2 separate regions of the Homo sapiens genome follow, and region 1 is reported to be linked to region 2. Evidence: microRNA targets listed by miRTarBase, many of them from high-throughput screens and not tested one by one. Region 2 holds a microRNA gene; the other region holds the end of a gene's coding sequence.

Evidence for each region. The annotated mature microRNA hsa-miR-5685 reads ACAGCCCAGCAGUUAUCACGGG and lies in region 2 at 2,647-2,668, shown strand. An mRNA with a match to its seed (bases 2 to 7 or 8) in the 3' UTR can be bound and repressed. Matches are read on the target gene's strand: a 7mer-m8 pairs with bases 2 to 8, a 7mer-A1 pairs with bases 2 to 7 and ends in A, and an 8mer does both.
Region 1: miRTarBase lists SEC14L3 as a target of hsa-miR-5685. The part of its 3' UTR that is shown has no 7-base or 8-base seed match.

Annotation. Positions count from the first base shown.
Region 1 is chr22:30,456,530-30,460,529 of GRCh38, reverse strand. It overlaps SEC14L3 (SEC14 like lipid binding 3), which reads left to right. Exons shown (of 12, transcript NM_174975.5): 12 at 388-1,301. The coding sequence ends at 509. Among named protein-coding and RNA genes, the nearest start is that of SEC14L3, 13 kb to the left of the region's middle.
Region 2 is chr6:53,274,356-53,278,878 of GRCh38, forward strand. It overlaps MIR5685 (microRNA 5685), which reads left to right and starts at 2,638; the gene lies at 2,638-2,716. ELOVL5 (ELOVL fatty acid elongase 5) reads right to left here. Exons shown (of 8, transcript NM_021814.5): 4 at 1,824-1,901; 5 at 735-906.

The DNA of each region.
Region 1 (4,000 bases), not on the chromosome of region 2:
TGTGAGGAGGCAAACAGTGTCCAGCAGGCCTGCCCCAGAACCCCACTTCATCCAAGGGGGCTGGGAGGTCTCTGATGAACCCAACCATGTGCCTTCACAGCCCCGTCATGTGCGTCTCCAGGTGTGAGACAATGGGATGTAATGACCATTGTTCTCGATGCCAGTAAAGCCATGCCTGGGCACATGCCAAGAGGAGGTTGGTGTCTGTTTACAGGACCTGCTTGGGTTGGCAGTTCCCATGGGGAAGGGAAGAGGCGTGGTGGGAGCTTGGCCCAGCTTGGCAAACAAAGCCAGTGGGAACACAAGCCTGTCCTCCTCCATGGCCAGGGGTGGAAAAAAGAGTGTGTAAAGCCAAGCCCAATGCCCCTCTTTCCATCTGTCCCCCAGATGTCCTACGCTTCGACAACACCTATAGCTTTGTCCACGCCAAGAAGGTCAGCTTCACAGTGGAGGTCCTGCTCCCTGACGAGGGCATGCAGAAATATGATAAGGAGCTCACCCCTGTCTAGGTGGCTCCCTCATTTCTCAGAGACCTCCTAACCCTTTGATTTCTCTGTTTATATCCTACACTCCCTCCCTCCCTGAAATTGATTGTTAGTCCTCCTGACTCTGTGACGTTAGTGAGTACAGAAAGAGATGCCCTGGGGAAAACTCATCTACTGTGGTCAGATCAAGAAAGGTATGAGAGGCACAACCTTGGAGGGTACCAAGGTTGCAGAAGAGGAAAAAGCAAGGGTAAAGGCAAGAAGTGGGTGTCATGAAACTCAATAAATAGCAAAATGAATCCCCTAGCCTTTGTCCTCACCTACCCTAAGGCAGGTGTGTATGCTTGAATTCCTTCCGTATGGCTGTGAGCAACTTGGGTTGGAGACATATCTAAATCCTTTTTACTTCCACTCCCTATATATAGTAGATGCTCAGTGTATATTTGTGGCATTGAATGGAGGACCAGAAGGTAGGGTGCAGGTGACTCAACAGCTGTACATGATTAGGAGGAGCCTATGTGGGGTGGATTTCAGCACCTTGGACAGGAGCAGATGTGTGGTGGGGTTGGACTCTCTTCTGGAGACCCAGACAATTCAGTCTCCAGATTTCTGGCAGTGGCTGTCTTTTGAGGGCCCCAGCCACAAAGGCCACATGCCTCTGATAGGAGCTGCCTACATCAGGCTTTGTCTGACTTGCACGCTCAGCTTCCCACCCTAACCCACTTCCCTTGTTGCACATAGCTTATGTTTTAGGGACTTTCCTGGAAGCAAAGGCAGTCACATCTGGCATAATCATAATAAAGAAAACAACTATCATTTGGCGAGTGCTCTCTGTGTACCAGAAACTGTGCCAAGAGCTTTGTGAGTTTAGCATGTTTTATTCTCATGCCATCCCCAAGGCCCTTTATGGATAAGGAAATGGAGGCTCAGAGGGGTGAAGCTACTCACTCAACATCTTACAGCTTGGGTGGCAGATCCAGGACCTGGGGCAGGGGGTGTTCGTTTGTTTGTTTATTTGTTTGTTTGTTTGTTTTTTGAGACAGGGTCTCGCTCTGTCGCCCACCCAGGCTGGAGTGCAGTGGTACAATCATGGCTCACTGCAGTCTTGACCTCTTGGGCTCAAGCCATTCTCCCACCTCAGCCTCCTGAGTAGCTGGGACTACAGGTGGGCATCACCACACTTGGCTAATTTTTTTGTATTTTTTTGTAGAGATGGGGTTTCCCCATGTTGTCTCAAGCTCCTGGCCTCAAGTGATTTACCCCCCATCAGCCTCCCAAAGTGCTGGGATAACAGGCCTCAGCCACCATGCCTGGCCTGTTTTTGCTTTGTTTACTCCAATGACATTGCTCTCAGTTGCCTTGTAATACCGCCTCCTGCCTATAATCCCAGCCCTTGGGGAGGCTGAGATGGGCGGATCGCTTGAGCCCAGGAGTTTTAGACCAGCCTGGGCAACATAGTAAGACCACATCTCTATCAAAAAAATTTAATATAGTAAGAATATGACCTCCTAAGATTCCACTTTTACAAAGGCAGTGAGAAGGCATGATTTATTTGTTCTAGACCTTCCAGTAGAAGTGTCCTGCATGTCACCCTCTCCAGTCCCTGTTTGTGGGTAGAGGAGGTGATAGGCCATAGAGACCCACAATACTGAAGCAGCTTGTCCAAGGAAATTCACAGCAGAGTGGGGCAGGGCTTGTGTTCCTCAGCTCAGCATCCTGTCCGCTGCTCACATGGCATCTGTGAAGCACAACCCCCTGACGCTCACCATGACCCTGGGTGACTAGGGCAAAGGCCAGGACTCCAGAGTTTCCTTCCCAACTTTCTGCTGTGATTCGGGGACGTGAAGAGGCTGGCTTGAGCCCCAGTCCCTGACACAACTCTTGCCAGGGGAGCCGGATCACACCCGGGAATGGGGATGAATGGGAACCAAAGGCTGGTGCCATGAGAGGCTCCTTGGAAACAAACAAACGGAGGGCTGAGCTCATCCGTGGGCAGGCTATGAGGTCTGACTCAGGCTAGTCAAGCAAATATTCAGCAGCAGCAAGCACTTTCCCACATGCACTTATGGGTGCAAAATCTGATATCTGCTTTATAGATGGGAAACTGAGCTCCCAAAGGCACTGGCCTTGTATCTTCAGCCTACAGGTGACAGAAATAGTCCTGGAGCTAAGGCTGCCCCTTACCCCGTCACCTCTTCACCCCCACCACTCTTCTATAACAATTTGTCAGAATGGGACAAGACTGCCTTCTTCCTGAGCTGGCAGGGAAGGAGGAGGGAGGAGGAAGGAGAAAGGAAAAAGGAAGGAAGAGAAGAGAAAATGAGGGTTGTCAGATTTAGAAAGGAAAAAAAAAAAAAAGCATGGCCAGGTGCAGTGGCTCATGCCTATAATCCCAACACTTTAGGAGGCCAAGGCAGGCGGATCACTTGACGTCAGGAGTTCGAGACCAGCTTGGCCAATGTGGTGAAACCCCGTCTCTACTAAAAATACAAAATTTAGCCTGGGGAGGTAGCACATACCTGTAATCTCAGCTCCTCAGAAGGCTGAGGCATGAGAATCTCTTGAATCCAGGAGGTGGAGATTGCAGTGGGCTGAGATCACACCACTGCACTCCAGCCTGAGCAACAGAGCAAGACTCCATCTAAAAAAAAAAAAAAAAAAAAAAAAGACATACTTAAAATGTATCCATTGTTTATCTAAAATTAAAATTGACCTATGCATCTTATATTTTATCTGACAATCCTACCAATGAGGGAAGATGGAGGGAAGAGAGAGGAAAGGGAGGAGGATGGAAAGAGGGGGATGGGTTCACCTTCTTGGAAGACGGTGGCAGCACCCACAATTTGGGCCAATGATGTCATGGAATCCTTGGGAGAGGATGGCTTAGTGTGGGTGATGCAGGGTCGGGGGACAGGGTGGTCTCACCCTTGACCACCAAAGGAAAGGCCTCGATGTTGAAGCAGGGTCTGAGGTAGAGAGTGTGGACCCTTTGTGCCTTTGGGACTAAGATGAGCAGTGCTGTTGCCAGAGCTCCTCTGTGGCAGCTGAGTGGAGGGGACTTGCACCAGGAGGTGGAGCAGTGCAAAGAACCTAAGGCCAGGGCCAGAGCTGAGATCTGCAAAGTGCCCATCAGCATCCGCTGATGCCCACCCCTGGCAAGCCAGCTCCCACTGTGTGCACACAGCCAGTAAGAGGCAGGCTTCCCAAGCTCCAGCTTCTAGCCTCCAGTCTTACTCAGGGTCTAGATGCTCAGCTCCAGTCCTGAATCTCCAGGAGGCAGCATTGGGGAAGGAAAGAGACCCACTTTGTAGCTTTGGCCAATGGTCACTAATAGAGTTTGGATATTTGTCCCCTCCAAATCTCAGGAGGAAATGTGGCCCCCGATGTTGGAGGTGGGGCCTAGTGGGAGGTGTTTGGGTCATGGCGGTAGATCCTTCATGAATGGCTTGGTGCCTGCCCGCCATAATGAGTGAGTTCTTATTCTACAATTGCTTAAAAGAGGCTGGCACCCCTCC
Region 2 (4,523 bases):
GACACTGTGAATCTTAGCAGGCTCAGGTAATCAAGGGCAGTGCTATCCCAGAGAAAAAAATATCCATAAATAGACCCATAGGTTCTCAGTTAAATTCTTCAGTGTTTGGATGACGGGACTTTTGACTGAGACATTTGCTAAAACTCCCAGGCTGAATCTGAAGGTGGCAATCTCTGAAAATTATAAGAAACTTTGGACTACAAGCTTTCCAAAAACCAAGTACAACCTTAGAAAATTTATATCAAGTTTTGGTGCTCGTTATAGAAGACACCTTGATCACCATGCTTCAGGGAATATGAGGGTTGTTAGAACATGTGGAGACTTCCTAATGCATGACAGCTAAAGCTGTATTTCAAAATGAGCCTTGCTCCCTGGTACTCATGCAACAGTGTGATCCTATTTTCCTCACCTGCCCGTCTCAAACCTTCCACACCATACAGAAGGACCAGAAAGAACCTGGAAAGTTGCCCTCTAAGTCAGAGAATATTGTACCTATTCCTTAATATGTCCCCAGTGGTATCTCCCTCATCTCACCCAATCAGCACAGAAAGTTCACTTAACTAAAAAAGGGTTTTGTGTGCATAGGTACATAAACTATCATTAAAAGCAACTTGAACACAAAGCTGAAAGCCTGACCTAGACATTTACAGAAACAGCACCTTTTCTGAAAGCCTTAGTTTCAACTCTCCTCCCTGCTCACACCTGTTCCCCAAGTCCCCGTCTCTAATACTTACAGTGGCCGCAGGGGACCCAGTTCATCACAAACCACCAGATGTTCAGCATCGAGGCATGGTGGTAGACGTGCAGGACCGTGATCTGGTGGTTGTTCTTGCGCAGGATGAAGAAGAAAGTGTCCATAAATTCTATGAGTTTGGAGAAGTAGTACCACCAGAGGACACGGATAATCTAAGAGGAAAGGGTCAAAGATTTAAGGCTTATCCTCACGGCTTCTCTGGAATATCACCTCTGACATGTTTCACTAATATCCAAAAATCTGATGTCAACTCGGAGAAGCCCGAGTGCCCCAAGAGCTCTTAATGTCCATCAGTGGCTGGGAGCTATGGTCACTCTCCAAGTACCTTTAACCAAAGAACATGATTGGGTTGGGACAGCTGGAGGGGTTTGAAATGACTACAGGGAATATTTTTGAAAGGGTCCCTGACACTCTTTGAGACTAACAAAAACATGAGGCTCAAGGTTCAAAACCTTGAAGTCTGCCTATTCCCTCTGGAAGCAGCCTGCACAGCCATTAGCAAAGGAAAACCATCTGAAAAACGCTATTGATTTCAGGGACTAACATGGAGCAGCCGACCTGATAAGTGACACAGAAGAAAAGGAATCAGAACCTGCAGTGTCAGGTCTCTGCCCAATTAAACATGTCAAACAAGTGCTCTAAGGAGATGACTGCCCATGCTGAGCTGCGACTGTTGGCCTGTGATTTAAAACAAACCTCATGAGTGGAAGTCAGATTTTATTTTTAACACCACTACTCGGAAAAAAGTACTTGGATGAATGATTTTAAAAATTTAAGACATTGCTCTTATGATCCTGATTGTGTAAATATAACATACTGACTGCATGTGATTTTTCCTGCCAATTGTTAACCGGAGTTATTTTTACAGAGGGGGATGCTTTAGGTTTTATTTTATACCTTTCACATTCAAATTTTAATTTGATGTGTATATATTGCCTTTTTTATTCTTTTAAAAATATCAACAGGGATTGCCTGGGCAGTGAGGTTATGGGCCATTTTGTATTTTATACAATTTATTTTTAAAAACTCAACACTTATAATAATAAAGTTTCTGAAAAAGAGACAGTACCTTCATATCTGATTCTCCTGCGGTGCGTGTGCCCTGACAGAAGAAGTTGTATTTGCCTTCCCATACTCCTGTTACTAACTAAAAAAGAAGAAAGAGCCAGTCACCAACAGCATCTGAGCCATGTAAAGTCCTCATTGAACTTTATTAGTTGCAGAATCTGTGATAATTTACCTTGGGCTGTGCTGAGCCAAGTTTGCTCTGAGAAAAAACAATTGTAGGCAAGTGTAAACAAAAGGAAAGCTTTAATGACTTGAGTCTCAATTTCCTAAGGGGTGGGCTTAAAAGTCACTCCCAGGCTGCTGCCCTCAGAGACCTTCCTTTACCACGCTGCTTCTCTGCAGAACCCTCAGCCCGTCACCCCCTTGGTCCTAGCACAAGTGCCCAGACCAAGCCAATCACAGGCTCCCTGCTCTGCCCCACAGAAGCCTCTGGCTGCTTTCCCTAAGCCAGTGCTCCTCAAACTTGAGTGTGCAGCACCAGAATTACCTGAGGGGTGAGTTAGTAAAACATGGGTCCCTGGGGGTGTTTCTGTTCCAGTAGGTCTGGGGGCCTAGAATTTGTATGTCTAACAAGGTCCAGGTGATACTGATGCTGCTGATGTGGAAACCATACTTTGAGAACCACTGCTGTAGGCTCAGGGATAATTTAGTCCAACTTTATCTTCATTATTTCCTGTTGTTGTATGTACAATCCTCCGGATCCATGAATTAGGCTTCACAAACTGAAGGCTTCACAAGTGCCCATGCCTCAGAATCACTTGCAGCACAGTAGGCACTATGCTGTCACAGAGAGGACCCCAGAACTGGGGTACAGGCTCTACATCACAGCCCAGCAGTTATCACGGGCCCCTCCCCTCAATGGGCCCGTGATAACTGCAGGGCTGTGATGTAGAGTCTGCACCCCAATTCTTGTGTTCCCTGTCCTTGAACACAAGAGTTTAGCTTGGCGAGCAACACAGATTCCCCCCCAGGGAACAAGAGGTGATTACAAGGATCTGAAGACACCTTGTGATATTTCCACCTGGTCTGACATCAGAAATAAATGGCAAAAAATGGGTGTAGCCGCTGCACTCACGCTGGGTATCCTGCCTTCTATCTGATTTTTCTTTGGTTATCTTTCTTCTTGCCATTTTCCTTCTGCTTTGTCACCTTCTACACATAAAAAAGCACTGAGAGTTAACAGGCTTTTCATGGCCAAAGAAGAGCACAAGGATTTAGCATGGGAGAAGCATCAGTTCATGATGAAGAGCCATGGAATTAGGAGGAAGGCTTGAGTGCCAGGCCCAGCACCTGGGGCAAGCCAGCTAATTCCTGTGGGCTTTTGTTGTTTTTACTATAAAATGATGAGGTTGGACTAAATTATCTCTAAAGGGTCTGTTCCAAATTTCTGTAGCTTCATGTTAACAGACTTTAAAAACAGACCACACAACAAACTATTCTATACTATCTTTGAAAGATCAGTACCCACATGGTAATTCATTAGAAGGTGTATTAACTTTTCTGTCTTCTACTACTCTCTAAAGTCATGGCCAGTCAAGCAGGATCCATGCAGGCTGATCAGAAGTCCTAAGAAGCAAGACACAAAGTCTGAATCCAAAGTGCGTTGGAGGTCGGGGGAGGAAGCTGGCATGCACTCTTGAGACCTGGGGTGGAGAGGGAAGGGCCAGCTTAGCACAGTGCTCTTTTTGCTGCCCTTCTTTCTACCCCAGGAGGGAACCAAGGAACTACCTCCTGTGGCTTGAGGGTACAGAAAGGAAACTGGTGCTTCTTGATGAAATGTTTGTGGGACAACCGCGAATAAGAAAAATAAGGACAACGCAGTAAGGTTTTCATGAAGATAAATTCGTGCAATGTAAAAGATCCTCTTTTTTAAAACAGCAGCCTCTCTTGGCAAAATTAAAAACGTACTAACATATGACTGTCTTCATCAGAGATATTTTTGGAAATGTTACCATTTTATGAATCTTAAATCTGGAACCTACCATCACTGTTTTTTCCAGCGACTATTTTGGTTTATGGTGTCCAGAGACATCCTGGGTTGGTTTTGCTTTTGTCTGTTTTAAAATAGGATGGCTGGTGTGTGTGCACTTGTGGAGGTGTGGATGACTGCATTCATGAATGTCTATCTTGGCAGGGGTGGGGAAAATCAAGGTAGCTCTCTGGAGAAGAGGAGGACAAATCCTCTCTTGTAATTCTGCAGGCGCCTCAATCCCAAAGATGAGAACGGGTTGAAGGGGTCTTGTTAACTCAGCAGAAGGGACTCTTGGACACAGGCTTCCTTTTTAAGAAGGGATCCAGGTGGGATTGCCTTGACTCTTTAAACTAGTTAACCTAACGTTCCATTTGCCCTCTCCCCACCCATAAATGGGGCAGGGGAATCCATGTATAAAACACCTGTTGTCTTTGGAGTTTAGTTAAAGAACTCAAACCTCAGTATTGGGTGGTGAACTTTTTTCACTCCTGAAGCATAAACCAGGTATACACACAAGAAGCTGCTCACTCGGTGCCACTCCACTTGACCTAGGCCCACCATTCCTCTTCCACCTGTTGAGGTTCCCTGTAGGAGCTCTGTCATGCTTCAATGCAACACTCCCTCCACTGCTACTCACACCTACCACACTTCCACTGGGGCCGCTGTGCCCCTCAAACCACTGAATTCCATATTTCCATATTTAAAACCCTCCAGTGAGTCATCATTGCC